Homo sapiens: one gene and its partner. The protein of the gene in region 1 interacts with the protein of each later gene in a pairwise test. Each region holds a gene or a part of one and is shown in the gene's direction. Other genes may lie near its edges.

The links. The genes of interacting proteins can lie anywhere in the genome.
Region 2: the proteins of ULBP3 (region 1) and KLRK1 interact in binary tests that used the Homo sapiens proteins (3 or more experiments, as listed by UniProt).

The regions. Positions count from the first base shown.
Region 1 is NC_000006.12:150,066,049-150,074,026, reverse strand, and holds the start of ULBP3 (UL16-binding protein 3 precursor), read left to right. Parts: upstream 1-4,905; 5' UTR 4,906-4,960; coding exon 4,961-5,048; intron 5,049-7,864; coding exon 7,865-7,978.
Region 2 is NC_000012.12:10,372,909-10,380,530, reverse strand, and holds part of KLRK1 (NKG2-D type II integral membrane protein), read left to right. Parts: intron 1-694; exon of another isoform or gene 695-738; coding exon 739-831; intron 832-1,048; coding exon 1,049-1,084; intron 1,085-1,825; coding exon 1,826-1,977; intron 1,978-2,295; coding exon 2,296-2,399; intron 2,400-6,394; exon of another isoform or gene 6,395-6,496; intron 6,497-7,299; coding exon 7,300-7,417; 3' UTR 7,418-7,622. Other genes in the region: KLRC4-KLRK1 (NKG2-D type II integral membrane protein), read left to right, coding at 739-831, 1,049-1,084, 1,826-1,977, 2,296-2,399, 7,300-7,417.

The DNA.
Region 1 (7,978 bases):
CCGAGGAGGACAAGTGACTAAGGAATCTATTCCAGATTACTGTTATTTCACAACAAGGGGAAATGTGAAGTTAGGATCACAGAAACAAAGAAGTGTAGCTAAGAATAACCGAGAATTACAGCTAGGAAAGATATCAGGAAAATGGGGCTGGAGGTGGCACACGAAAGGGATAGGAAAACATGCTGAGACTTCTAAAATTAGGAATAAAACAAAACCAATAATACCAATAAATGTGACACATATTGGTATGAGTCATAGGTTAAGGGCAGCCACCCTGAGAAGAAAACTAGAATGTATAACTTTTAAACCAACAGAAAAAAAACCCTCAGTATACTAAATAGAACACAGTTACGGAGGGGAAATGCCAGCAATAAAAAACACAATAAATACATGTGCACCAGGCACAGTGGCTCACGCCTGTAATCCCTGCACTTTGGGAGGCCAAGGCAGGAGGATCGCTTGAGCTCAGGAGTTCAAGACCAGCCTGGGCAATATAGGCAGACCCCATCTCTACAGACAAATATAGAAAATTAGCCCAGTGGGTGGCGCATGCTTGTAGTCCTGGCTACTCGGAGGCTGAGGCAGTAAGATGGCCTGAGCCCAGGAGTTAGAGGCTGCAGTGAGCTATGACCACGCGGCTGCACTCCAACCTGGGCAACAGAGGAAGACCCCATATCTTAAAAAAAATAAATAGATAGGCTGGGCACGGTGGCTCATGCCTGTAATCCCAGCACTATGGGAGGCAGAGGTGGGTGGATCACAAGGTCAGGAGATTGAGACCATCCTGGCTAACAAGGTGAAACCTCGTCTCTACTAAAAATACAAAAAAAAAAAAAAAAAAAAAAAAAAAAACTAGCTGGGCGTGGTGGCGGGCGCCTATAGTCCCAGTTACTCGGGAGGCTGAAGCAGGAGAACGGTATGAACCCAGGAGGAGGAGCTTGCATCAAGCCGAGACCGTGCCACTGCACTACAGCCTGGGCGACAGAGAAAAAATAAATAAATAAAAATAAATAAATAATAAATAAAAAAGATGGCAGAGCTAAATCCTAAACAGTAGTAATTACAATAAAAGTGAACTACTAAACTTATCACATAAATCACTGAAACTCCCAGGTTGGATTTTAAAATATCAAATAATATACACTATTTTCAAAAGACAATGTTAAATGTAAAGATTAAAAATAAAACGTGCTGTATCTGCGAAGAAAGGCTACTTTTTAATTTTTTTTGTATTTGTTTCTTTTAGCGACTACAATATGCTTTATTGTTCTTAGAAAGGACTCAGGGTTTGGCTTTAAATCAGGCTGCACGCTTTTCATCAGTCTCGCATCGCTCTCCCCATGCCAAGCTGGCTCTAGCTAGCAATGTCGCATTAAATCCCAGGGCAACCTTCAGGAACTTCCAGAAGCCTCCCCTCTCCTGACCCCCTGCAGTCCAAGACCCCCATATTTGCCCACACCCCTGCTTAGGGTCCAGCCCTAGAACTCACTGCCCCGCCCCAACCTGCCCTGGACCAGCCTGGCAGCAGGAGCAGAGGCTGGAGGCAAACACCCAACTTCGCGCCAGCACCTGTGCCACTGGGGACCAGGAGCCCAGGGTGTGACACACCCAGAGGAAGCAGAGAGCCGCTGCGTGAGTCACCCTGGCCCTCAAGGCTGTCACAGCTCCAGTAGCCCTGCCCCGCCCACTTGCAACTCCAGGCCATGGGGCAGGAAATGCTTGAATCCTTGCTACCTCTCAGACCCCAACCCTTCTTTTCTCCTCTTTCCTCCTGGCCCGGTTATCTTTTCCCATTTCCATTCCCACTTTCAGACTCGTTCTTTCTTTGCTTAAAAGGCAAGTATTTCAGCCATGCGCGGTGGCTCACGCCTGTAATACCAGCACTTTGGGAGGCCAAGGCGGGCGGATCATGAGATCAGGAGTTCGAGACCAGCCTAGCCAACATAGTGAAACCCCATCTCGACTAAAAATACAAAAAACTAGCCGGGCATGGTGGGGATGCCTGTAATCCTAGCCACTCAGGAGGCTGAGGCAGGAAAATCGCTTGAACCCGGGAGGCGGAGGTTGCAGCGAGCCTAGATCACACCACTGCACACCAGCCCGGGCGATAGTATGAGACAACGTCTCAAAAAAAAAAAAAGGCAAGAAAAAGACAAGATTTTCCTGGCCCTGGTGCACTCTAGGCTCAGTCAAACCAACTGAAGACAGCAGTTTGCTGTCCGTCATCACACTATGTTTTCTAGAAGATTCTATCCTGATGAAGCACCCCCCAGACTGGTTGAAAACCAAAGTTACTCTTCCTTGGAAAATCTTTGTGGACACCCAGGTGGAGATTCAAATTTCCAAGTTGGGGCCAGGCGAAGTGGCTCACGCCTGTAATCCCAACACTTTGGGAGGCCGAGGCAGGCAGATCACCTGAGGCCGGGAGTTCGAGATCAGCCTGGCCAACACGGTGAGACCCTGTCTCTATTAAAATTGCAAAAATTAGCCGGGGGTGGTGGCAGGTGCCTCTAATCCCAGCTACTCGGGAGGCTGAGGGAAGAGAATCGCTTGAACCCGGGTGGCAGAGATTGTAGTGAGCTGAGATCGTCCCATTGCACTCCAGTCTGGGCGACAGAGTGAGACTGTCTCAAAAACAAACAAACCGGAAAACAACAAATAAAACCCAACAACTAAAAAAGGCAAAAAAAAAAAAAAATTACCAACCTCGATGCTGCCACCTTCAGGCCGCTGGGGGTTACAACCTCCGCTCCAGCTCCCCTCTGAACCTGTGCTATTCTTCTGAGTCCCATTCACTCCCACAACTGTCTCATTCATTCACTGGTTCACTCAGCTTCCAACCACCCTTACATCACGTCAGGCTCACCAGGTGATGGAGAGAAAAATCATCCTCTGTGGGTCTGAAAAACATGCCTGAGTCTTGATGGTGGGTCTTGTTTTCATTTCCTCCCCATCACAGCGCCCCCAGGGCCATGAAGAGGCCATGGCCTGGGCTCAGAGATCCAGCTCTCCTCAGGGTGGGCCTGGCAGTTGCTGACTTCAGGGAGAGCTGGAGGCCTCACAACTGAAATAGGAGACCTGCCCTGGGTCCTTAGCATGTGCAAGGACAGGGTTCCTTGTAGAATCTGCTCATTTCATCTGTGTTCATAGCATTTGTCATTTTCCACATGCAGACATCCATTCCTAGAAAGCTGAAGAAGCTTGCACAGGAATATTCAGCCACAATATCAGCTGACTTCCATATCTGAATGCATGATCTCTAGATCCCGGCCATTACAATAACATTTGGGCCACTTCTATCCCCATCCTGGGCAGGCCTGAGTCTGTTGGCCAGATGCCTGCAGCAGGGGTGAGTCAGGAGGGCCCAGGTGTGCACAAAAGCCCCTCCTCCTGTCCTGCTTGGGGCTCTCCTGCCAGCCTCCTTCTACCTTCCTCCTGTTCCCCCAGTCACTGGCCCAGGTCACCTGGCCTCGGGGTGGTGCTGCCAGGGCCTTCCCAGAGGCCTCCTCCCAGGACTAACCTGGGCTCCTGCCCCCAGCCCTGTACATGGGAGGCTCTTCTCACACACAGATCCTGGGACCCGCCAAGCTCTGCCCCTCCCAAATCTGAGAACTGCCCACCCTTGTGTGTCTGTTGTCCTCCAAACTACCCTCCACATGGCCCCTCCTGCACAGGGGCTCTAGTGCATCAGGCCAGAATCTTCTAGGCTCCTGTGTCCCTGCTCAGTCACAGAGGTGGCTGCCCTCCCATGACTCTGTCCTGAAGCAGAAACAGGCCCTGGGCTTTGTCCAGGCCTCCTCCTCTTTCCCACAGCCTCAGGACCCTCGGGATTGATGATCACCAGGTGCAGGTGATCCCAACATGAAGACTGTACGGAGTGGGAGGTCTGTGCCGATTTTTCTCATTCAATAGGGAATGGGCTGAGTGGCTGGGGCCTGAGTGGCACTCAAGATCTCTGTCCACTCCTCATCCCAGGCTAAAGCCCTCCCTTGCGGCCAAGGGCCACTGGGCCCATCACCTCCCTCTGGCTTCTGCCCACAGATCTAGATGTTTCCATGGTGACTGAGACGAGGATACACTCGGGTTGCCGCTTTGAGGATGGCTGCAGTCACCATCCAGGGACAGGGCAGAGATGCGCGTGCAGCCATGGATTTGCGTGTAGCTGGCCACAGATGGGTGTACAGCAAAGTGAGCCCCACGCATGCGTAGACCCTCCCTCGGCTTCTGCTCTCCATGGAAACACAATTGATCATTTGATCACTGATCACGGTAGGCCACTAGGGCTTTCTTTTCTTTCTTTTTTTTCCCAGAAGTCATAAAGGGATATAGAATATACTTTATTCTATATATATTCTATATATTCCTCATGCTTTTAGTGGAGAGGCAAAGAAGGTCTGCTCCGGACTGGGAAGCAGCTGCGCCCTGGACGGAGAGGGGCGGGGACTCCTTGGCGCAGGCTGAAGGAGGGCAGGTGTCGCTGGCGGAGGCAGTGACGGGGGGACACAGCCGCCACTGGATATCCCTGTGCAAGTTTCTTCGCTTTCCTGTGCATCAGTGCTTACATTGGGGTAATAATAAATGGTGTGTTAAAAAATTAAATGAGGCGGTCAAGAAGGAATCGTGTCCTGGCCCGCGCGGAGCCTGGGGTGGAGGGTAAGGGTTGGCCAGAGGGGGCCGCTGTCAGGCCACGAGCCCGGGGCGGGACGAAGCGGAGCCACAGCAGGCATAGGCTCCCCGGGTCCCAGCCTGGGGTGGGGCGGGGAAGGGCGGGACGGGGCGGGATAGGGCGGAGCATCCCTCCAAACGTGGGCAGGCGTAGGCTCCCCTGGATCCCGGGGCGGGACGGGACCGGACGGGGCCGAGCACACTCAATCACTAGCTGGCATGCGAGGGCCGAAGTGATTCATACGCTGGTCTCCACATCGACTGCGCCTTGTGTCCCGGGCGCTCCTGGTCTACAATGGCAGCGGCCGCCAGCCCCGCGATCCTTCCGCGCCTCGCGATTCTTCCGTACCTGCTATTCGACTGGTCCGGGACGGGGCGGGCCGGTGAGTTCGGGGATGGAGCCTAAGCGGGGCGGGGGCCAAACCTGGGGGGCTGTGGACTGCAGCGGGTTTCAGAGGAGGGAAGCCTTCTAGAAGGACCGGCGCGATCTCCCCGGACTGCCCCCACGCTCAGTTCCGATTCGCTGCTCTTTTTCGCCAGGTCCGCTTCCTGCGGCTGCTGCTTGCCCTGCAGAGCAGGAGGGGGGTCAAAGAAGGCGAAAAAAGAACCGCAGGAGGGTGGAGGGGCCAAAAAGCTGCAGAGGGCGAGGTGGGGAGGGGATCCCTGGTGCAACCCCGCAGCCCCACTCGTCCTCGGGAAGGAGAAACCAGAGCCCCCGGAACCCGAGCTGGGGTCAAGACATGGGTGACGCCAGCGTCATATAGAATAGTCACTAAGCAGACAGGAGTCAGCAAACCCTTTCTAGAAAGGAAAGGCTGAAGGCACTTTGGTCCTTGCTGGCCGTGAGTTCTCTGTCTCTGTGTCAAGTCCCGTCCCTTTGTAGAGCAACAGCAGGCAATGGCAACCTGCAAGTAAAAGAGAAACCTGAAATGGACCCTGTCCTAGGTTGCAGACTCCAGATGAGGGCACATGCTGTGTCCTGGCAATTGCTGCCCCATCCCCTAGGGTGTCATCTCTAAGTTGTGTAAGTTGAAGAGTCACAAGTGTGTCCTACCCTGCCTGTGGCTTCTGGGAGGTGTGGATGTGATGAATGTGAGGGGGAGTCCCATGGTTCGGGGCCTACTGCTCCCCTCCTTTGTTGCTGAGTAGCATTAACGGTCCCCAGGGGCCATTCAGGGACCCTCCCTGAAGCCTCAGGTGTGACCTGAGGGTGGGGGGGTGTAGCCATGTGGTGTCCTGGGGATCAGAGCCAACTGCTTGTGCAGCTTCTTGGTTCCCTGTGGCCCTGCTCCTGCCCATCCCAGGAGACCCACCTGTGTCTTCTCACTGTGGGGCCTATCTTCCTAATGACCTAAAGGGTGAGGAGCACACCCTGTGATGGGCAGCTCTGAGGCTGTGTGGTCACTGCCCTCCCATAGCTGGAGGCCCATCTCCACAGGGGCCCAGGACCACAGCAGGAGCCACTTTTAAATGAGGGGATTTCACTGCTGTGAGTGGCACAGCTTTGCTTCTGAGCACTAGGGGACCCTGTTGGATTCTGTGGTTGGGAATAGCCATGAAATCCACATAGCACCTTTTCCAACCACACATGCTTCTGGGATCTTAGGGAGTCCAGGGTCAAATAGCTGTAGTGGCAGGTCCAGCCACACCCCTCATCACAGAGTGTGTATGGCTGCATCCCAGCTATAAGAGCAGAGTTGAGTAGTGACAGGGGAGGTCATATGACCAGCACAAACTATAATAGTTACTACATTAACTACAAACACTATCCATTCCCGGTAGAAATCCAGGAAATGTGAAATTACCATTGAATGGGTCTATGAACCCAGCACATCCCTCTAAGCTGGACCTGACACAGAAGTCCATCTGTTACTTTGCCCCAAATGCACCTCATGAGTAACAGGGGAGCAAGTTAATGCTTCACATCCCTGGGAAGAGCTCGGATCACACACTGTGTCCACTAGGAGTGTCTGAGTATTTGCTGTTTCATGGTGTACAGTTACCAGAGTGACTACCCATCTGGCTCTGTGGGGGAGGCTGAAGGAGTCATTGCAATTGCTGTGGGGTTGAAGGAGCCCACCAGGGGCTCTGGGCTCTCCTTCTAGTAATGGACTCTGCGTCTGAGATGTGGCTCAGTTCTCAAAGCTGGGCGAGGGAGCTCAGTTATTTCCCGGGGTGACAACTTTCAGCCTCCTGGTCATCCATCCTTGCATTTTGTCTTTGTGGTAATTATTTAAATCTAGTAGTATCCGGGTGGAGTCTCCATCTCTTTTGGATCTTGGACCCTTTTGTTCTATGAGCCATGGGCATAGCTTTGTAAGACTGAGGACCCCAGCTAGCATTGTGACTTCTCTAATTATTTCCATCATTGCACCCTCCTTCCTGCTGACAGTTGACGGCCTCCACTTGAGATCTCTTATTTCAGGATTTTCCATCCCCATTACTACTGGGAGCCCATTTCAGGAAGAGCATCTCCTACCCCTGACCCTGGGCTTCAGCAACAGGCATCCCTGAGCTTCTTGACAGTCTGCTGCCTTCTCCTGGGGCCTTCTTTATATGCTAGGTAAACAGGAGTCTTCCAGGCTTCCCTTGAGCACAGAGGGTGAACATTGTTCTGGATTTTCATACTGCAGTCACTCTGGCATGGGCACTTCTCTTAGTATTTTGTTCCTTCCTGTACAACCTGCCACGTAAGACCTGGGTTTTCTGTTTCATGCGGTGTGGGTCATTCCTTTTTCCAAGGTTCCAAGGGCAACCTACTAGCAGCTGACCACATTCCAGGGAACTTACCATGTCTTGTTACCCATAATAAATGAACTCATCCTTATCCAATGTTAACTACATCGTACCCACTGCACCACGCTCCAACATCCTCAGGGTGCCCTCCCACACTCTCCCGCCTCTTGCAGTCCACCTGGGCTGCTCCTGCAGATCCTGCCATCTAAGTCCTTCTTCCTGTAGTGGGCCTGCCACCTCCCTGGCAGGGTCCTGTGCTGACGGATGTGAGTATAGGCCTGGGCAGAGTGGGGAGATAGACATGTTAGCGACCCATGGTTCCTCCACAGGCAGAGACCACCGTCCAGGAAGAGAAATCCATGCTCTGCCAGCCCAGCCCTTCAGGAAACCCTCTTGCTGTCACAGTGTTTGGGGTCTTTCCCCCACCCCAACACTCTCTGGTGTTTTTTTTTTTTTTCCTTAGACGCTCACTCTCTCTGGTATAACTTCACCATCATTCATTTGCCCAGACATGGGCAACAGTGGTGTGAGGTCCAGAGCCAGGTGGATCAGAAGAATTTTCTCTCCTATGACTGTG
Region 2 (7,622 bases), on another chromosome or scaffold:
TGAATTCCAGCCTTCTCCCTTCAACACTCTATTCAATGTGTGGTTATCTACTTGTTGTTTTGGTCCTTTGTGGAAGTGAGTGCTGGGTGCCTGTAGTTAGCCATCTTGATGATGCTTCCTCCTTCTTTATGTTTATTATTGTATCTGCATAAAAATAATAAATCACGGCCGGGTGCGGTGGCTCACGCCTGTAATCCCAGCACTTTGGGAGGCCGAGGCGGGCGGATCACGAGGTCAGGAGATCGAGACCGTCCTGGCTAACACGGTGAAACCCTATCTCTACTAAAAATACAGAACATTAGCTGGGAGTGGTGGCGGGCACCTGTAGTCCCAGCTACTCGGGAGGGTGAGGCAGGAGAATGGCGTGAACCCAGGAGGTGGAGCTTGCAGTGAGCCGAGATCGCGCCACTGCACTCCAGCCTGGGCGACAGAGCGAGACTCCGTCTCAAAAAAAAAAAAAAAAAAAAAAAACAATAACAACAAAAAATCATAAGCATAATTTACTCTAGGGATGACTGGGGAACTTGTAGAGAAGTATAGAAGGAAATATTACATTGTTGTACTCTAGTTTTTGATCATTTGCGAGGTATTTATGTTCTGTTCTGGAAAAAATTATTAAGGCAGAAAAAGGATCAATACCACCTTCTCATTTAAAAAACTCTAATATTTATATTAAATACAAAGATACCCAAACCTTTTATGCTTCTTTCTCTGATCTGTGTCTTTTTTCTTTGACAGCATCTCCATTTTTTTTCTGCTGCTTCATCGCTGTAGCCATGGGAATCCGTTTCATTATTATGGTAACAATATGGAGTGCTGTATTCCTAAACTGTAAGTGACAACAGAGAAGTAGATTGCAACATTGTCAATTTAACAATGCTAATGTATTATTTTTGTTAGTATTCATAAACACAGACACATAAACTAGAAATATTAAATGTATCTTTGTCACATTTTTGCTATTAGTCCAGAAATTTGTAAACTATATTTGCTTATACTATAAGTTACTAACAATACAAACTTTTAATACTTATGGTTATTTTAATAGCATTATTCAACCAAGAAGTTCAAATTCCCTTGACCGGTAAGTGAATTTTTAAAATATTTTAGATCATATATTATATGTATCTACCTACATTATTGTGTAGACATGTATTCCATGATTAAAAAAGGAAAAAGTAATTAATTCTAGTCTGTAATACACTATGGCTTCTGTTTTCCTTTTAACAATGAGGGAATACTTGTAAAAAGTAGAGGCTACTTAGGTTTGACATCATCTTTCTCTCTCTCTCTCTCTTTTTTTTTTTTTTTTTTTTGAGATGGGGTCTCACTCTGTCACCCAGGCTGGAGTGCAGTGGGGTGATCTCAGCACAATGCAACCTTCGCCTCCCAGTTTCAAGCAATTCTCATGCCTCAGCCTCCCAAGTACCTGGGACTGCAACCTCTACCTCCTAGGTTCAAGCAATTCTCCTGCCTCAGCTTCCAAGTAGCTGGGACTGCAGGCGTGAGCCACCACACCCGGCTAATTTTTGTATTTTTAGTAGAGGCAGGGTTTCACCATGTTGGCCAGGCTGGTATCAAACTTCTAACCTCAAGTGAGTCACCTGCCTTGGCCTCCCAAAGTGCTAGGATTACAGGCATGAGACACCACACCCAGCCTGGCTTCTCTCTATGAATATGTAGAGATATGCCTTTGGTTATGACTGTAATAATTTAATAATCTGAAATTTTAGAGTTGGAGTGAAAAAGGCATTTAATTTGTCTAGACAAAATCTGCTATAATGGTTCAGATGTGTAGAATTAATAATATATTCTCCTTTTCCAGAAAGTTACTGTGGCCCATGTCCTAAAAACTGGATATGTTACAAAAATAACTGCTACCAATTTTTTGATGAGAGTAAAAACTGGTATGAGAGCCAGGCTTCTTGTATGTCTCAAAATGCCAGCCTTCTGAAAGTATACAGCAAAGAGGACCAGGTTGAGTATTTATTTTAATTTCCCATCCTGTATTTAATCCTAACATCTGAGACAACTCACTGGAATATGAACCTAGAACATATAAGGGACACTGTGACTTGGTTATTCTAATACCAACCCTAAATCTTTCTTCATTGAAAATAACAAAGCACAGAAATTGTAGGTATCATGTATGTGTGCTCGGATGAGAATTATGCCAGTTAGTGGACAGAATGCATTTTTTTACAAGTGTGAGAACAGATGAAATGGTTATGGTCTTGCGTTTACTAAAATTATCAACACTGATTTTACTTATAGTTTATTTGTGGTTTCAAACAGGATTTACTTAAACTGGTGAAGTCATATCATTGGATGGGACTAGTACACATTCCAACAAATGGATCTTGGCAGTGGGAAGATGGCTCCATTCTCTCACCCAACCTGTAAGTCTCTGACCCAATGAGTCTCTTCTTTTTAATTTTTTTCCTAAGTTTTCCCTGTAATAATTCTAATCACTCATCTCACATAATCCCAGGACATTTGCACATTCTAATAGATTTAGTAAAAAGTGCTTAGGCCCTAAATTTGGGAGAAAGTTGTATTAGTTGTAGAGCAGCCAACACAAATACTAGTAAGTAATACAAATTGTTTACTATATGGTAAGTACTGTGGAAGGCAGGTCTAATATGTTCGTTTTACAGATAAAGAGACAGAAACAGAGAGGTTAAATATTACATACATTTCTTTTTGAATTTATTACCAGACATGTTGAGATATAATTAACATATAATAAATTGCACATATATAAAGTATACAATTTGATAAGTCTCGAGAACTATATGAGCCCATGAAAACATAAAGAACATCAAGATAGTTAACATATAAATTACCTGGAAAACATTCTCTAAGCATGCACCTTTGTGATTTCTCCTCTGTGTCCCTATGTCCTTACCTCTTTCTCTTTCCAGTCAATCAGTTTTCTGTCACTTTAGATTAGTTTGCAATTCATAGAATTTAATATAAATGAAGTCCTACAATATATATCATTTGCAATGTCTTATTTTCACTTAGAAAAGTTATCTTGAGATTCAGCCATCTCATTGCATGAGTAAAGAGTTAATTTCCTTTTATCTCTTCATTTATTGATGTATATTTAGGTAATTCCCAGTTATTGATCATTACAAATAATGCTACTTGCTAATAATATTTGTGTACAAGTATTTGTATCATATTAACGAAATCTTTCTTTCCCTTAACATAAACACCTAGAAACAAAATGGCTGAATCATATAAGTATATACTTAACTTTTTTTAAAGTGCCACACTGTTATCCAAAGTGGTGATGATATTTTACAAATTTTACTTTCTACCTAGCAGTATGTAAGAGAAAATCTGACAGAGAAGTTGCTTCACATCCTAGTCAACACTTGTTTTGATCAGCCTCTTAAATTTTATACTGGCTGGGTGCAGTGGTTTATGCCTATAATCCCAGCACTTTGGGAGGCCGAGGCAGGCAGATCACTTGAGGTCATGAGTTCAAGACCAACCTGGCCAATGCAGTGAAACCCTGTCTCTACTAAAAATACAAAAATTAGCTGGACGGGGTGGCAGGTGTCTGTAATCCCAGCTACTCGGGAGGCTGAGGCAGGGGAATGGCTTGAACCCGGGAGACGGAGGTTGCAGTGAGCCGAGATTGCGCCGCTGCACTCCAGCCTGAGTGACAGAGCAAGACCCTGTCTCATAAATAAATAAATAAATAAATAAGTAAATTTCAGACACACTAAATGATGTGTTTTGGTATATGAATGTAGTTTTAACTTGCATTTTACTAATGCAATGATGTTAAGTAGCATTTTTTTGTGTGTGCTTATTTGCCATTTAGGTAAAAATTTTCTTCTCACTGATTTCTGCTTTGATCTTTATTATTTACTGTCTTCTTATAGTAGGTTAAATTTGCTTTTTTAGTTTCTTATATTGAAAGCTGATATGTTGATTTGAAACCTTTTTTTCTAATAAAAGTTATACTATTAATATGTGAGATGATTTGGCAACATCCCGTCATATTTTGAGATACTACTTTTTGTTTCCATTCAGTTAAAAATAGTTTCTAAATTGTCTTTTGCATTCTTTGATTCATTGATTATTTACATGTGTCATTTAGTTTTCAACATTTGTGAATTTTTCAGACATTTTTATTATTGATTTCTAATTTAATTTCATTTTCATTAGCGAATTATTTTGTATAATTTAAAACTTAAATTTATTGACATCAGTGTTATGGACTAGACTATAGTGTGTTTTTAAAAATGTTTTAGGTGTATTTGATCAGAAATGTTTATTCTGCTGTTTTCTATGTATTCTATGTGATAACCTTTGAAATACAAAGTTTTGTAATATGGCTGGTAGAAACAGGCAAAATACTAGACCCTATGTTAGCACTAAGTATTGTTTACCCTAAATCTTTTCAGACAGTTCTTTCTCCATCCTGGAGTAGTTTTTTACATACATGCATTAGTAAGTACTCTGCTGAATATTCAAAGGTGACCTTCTGCATATCTTTACATTTCTTTATTTCTTCAAATCTCTTATCTCCATTTCTGTGTCCGGTGAACTACAGCTTGGTCTTTCTGGATTCTGAAGTGTCCCATGTCTGTAGTTTTTATAGCCTGCTCTTTTACCCACTTGATTGCACAGAGCAATTCAGCACACCCAGACTAAGTGACAACATCTTAATGTTCACTGATCTTATGAATATAGTTGTAATTCTCCAGATTAATGCTAGAGTATTCAAGAAAGGTCATTTCTACCATTTGAAAGATCTGACCTGTCACTACACTGTTCAGTAATTTCTTCATTCAGCTACAACGATCAGGAATGAAACCTAAGCATTTTGTCACTACTGCTTTTCCTTTTTTCAGTCTCATAATATCACAAATATTGCAGAAGTCCTCTAGATTGTAAATATTATAATTCTTTATTTCAAGGGGACTTTAGATATTTGAATTTCCAATTCTTCAATGTAATAAAAAGTCACAACAATATCAATGTTAAAATTAGGTTAATTAGGTGCTTCCTGTCTGTCAGACACAGATTTAAGCACTTAAATGTATCCTTTCATTAAATATACTTAACAATCCTGTATACAGGTGTTATTTTAACCTAATTCTAATGGTATACAACAGAATCTTAACATGTTAAATAACTCACTTAAGTTACAAAATGAATAATTGTTGCAATGAGGACTCAAATATATATATTTCTGGCTCTGGAGCCAGACTTACTATTAAATGACTAAAAAAGTGCTCTTTTCGCTGATTTTTAAATTTACTTTGCTACTTTAATGATTAATTGGCAATGATCAATGCACAACCTTTTACTCTCATGTGTTATTTTCAATTTTCCCCTTGTGTTTATTGTAGCAAGAACTCCCTACCTTCCTTCCTTATTATCTATTTGTAATTTGGAAGCCCCAGTATACCTTAGAATTGATCCAGGATGGCCTCATTTATGTATGGCTTGAGAGTTTTTTTAACAGAAAAAACATTGATTCTCTAAAAAATAAGAGTTTATATCATAGTTTCTCAATATTTTCCTATCTACAAGGACAAAATTTTTTTTCAGAAGCAAAACAACTAGCATACTAACTTTCTGTTTATGCATGTAGTAAATATTGGTTGATTACTGCACAATTTCCAGGAATTATGCAGAGATAACTACAGAGATGAGTAGAATAAAACTCATTTTAGAGCTTCAAACTCTAGTCAGAGATGTAGTTACAAACAAATAATCCAGTGTAGTTAGTTAGGTACTCTGGCAGAAGTGTAATGAAAGTAGTATGAAAAAACAGAGAAAGAAATCGAAGGAACACATGGACAAAGTGATATTAAAAAGAATGAGGCCGGGTGCAGTGGCTCACGCCTGTGATCCCAGCACTTTGGGAGGACCTGAGGTCAGGAGTTCAAGTCCAGCTTGGCCAACATGGTGAAAGCTCATCTTTACTAAAAATACAAAAATTAGCCAGATGTGGTGGCAAGTGCCTGTAACCCCAGCTACTCCTGAGGCTGAGGGGCAGCAGAATTGCTTGAACCCAGGAGGTGGAGGTTGCAGTGAGCCGAGATTGCGCCACTGCACTCCAGCCTGGCTGACAAGAGCAAAACACTGTCAAAAAAAAAAAAAAGAGAGAGAGGAAAGAAAGAAAAAAAGAACGAGACTCTAATGTAGACTGAACCTAGTAAGAGCAGTTATTAAAAAATCTCAGCTGGGGCCGGGTGCAGTGGCTCACACCTGTAATCCCAGCACTTTGGGAGGCCGAGGTGGGTGTATTGCTTTAGGTCAGGAGTTTATAACCAGCCTGGCAACGTAGTGAAACACCATCTCTACTAAAAATAAAAAAATTAGCCGGATGTGGTGGCACATGCCTGTAATCCCAGCTACTTACGAAACTGACACAGGAGAATCACTTGAACTTGGGAGGCAGAGTTTGCAGTGAGCCGAGATTGAACCAGTGCACTCCAGCCTTGGCAGCGGAGCAAGATTCTGTCTAAAAACAAACAAACAACAAAACAAAAACTCTTTAAGAATAGTTTTCTCCCTACAGTGGCCGATTGTTCAGTTACAGAACAGAGATCATTACATCGTCTTTTTAAATAGGGATAGCATCAGACCATAATCTTTTTATTTTTTTGTCAATTTTACATTGAAGTGACATCCTCACTCTTTCTTGAGCTTTCTATTTCCCATCTCTTATGAAAGAAAACAAAGTATCATTATTAATCATATAACTCCAAAAGATTAAAGATGCCAGAGTAAAACACATATATAGATATAGAAATCTCCACATGGAATGCCTAAACATATGCACACACACACACACACACACTTATACACACTTGTGAATGTGTGTATGTATGTATTAGATTTGAAATTTTATTTTCATTTCCTTACCAAGTAAAATTGCATATATCTGAAGAAAATGTTTTATTTTTCCACAAAACACAGTATCAAATTCTAAATTGAACACTGAATTTATTTCTCACTTAAATATTTGTTTTAAAATAAACATTCTAAAGTTTTCATTTAACTTGGGTATACATATGAAGAGATTTTAGACTTCAGAATTGGCTAGTTTCTGATGTATGATAAAAAGAGTGGCGCATTATTTATAATTTTTATTTTTATTATCTGAGTTGGCTATATTTTGTTTATGAATTAGGACCAGGCATGGTCCATAATCTCCTAAAATGGTATTAAGTTCCTGTATTTGAAGTTCAATAGGTATGATTCATTTTTATTTTCCCGCGTTAATAAAATCATGTATGTAATTTGTAATTGTCTCTCCTCTAGACTAACAATAATTGAAATGCAGAAGGGAGACTGTGCACTCTATGCCTCGAGCTTTAAAGGCTATATAGAAAACTGTTCAACTCCAAATACGTACATCTGCATGCAAAGGACTGTGTAAAGATGATCAACCATCTCAATAAAAGCCAGGAACAGAGAAGAGATTACACCAGCGGTAACACTGCCAACTGAGACTAAAGGAAACAAACAAAAACAGGACAAAATGACCAAAGACTGTCAGATTTCTTAGACTCCACAGGACCAAACCATAGAACAATTTCACTGCAAACATGCATGATTCTCCAAGACAAAAGAAGAGAGATCCT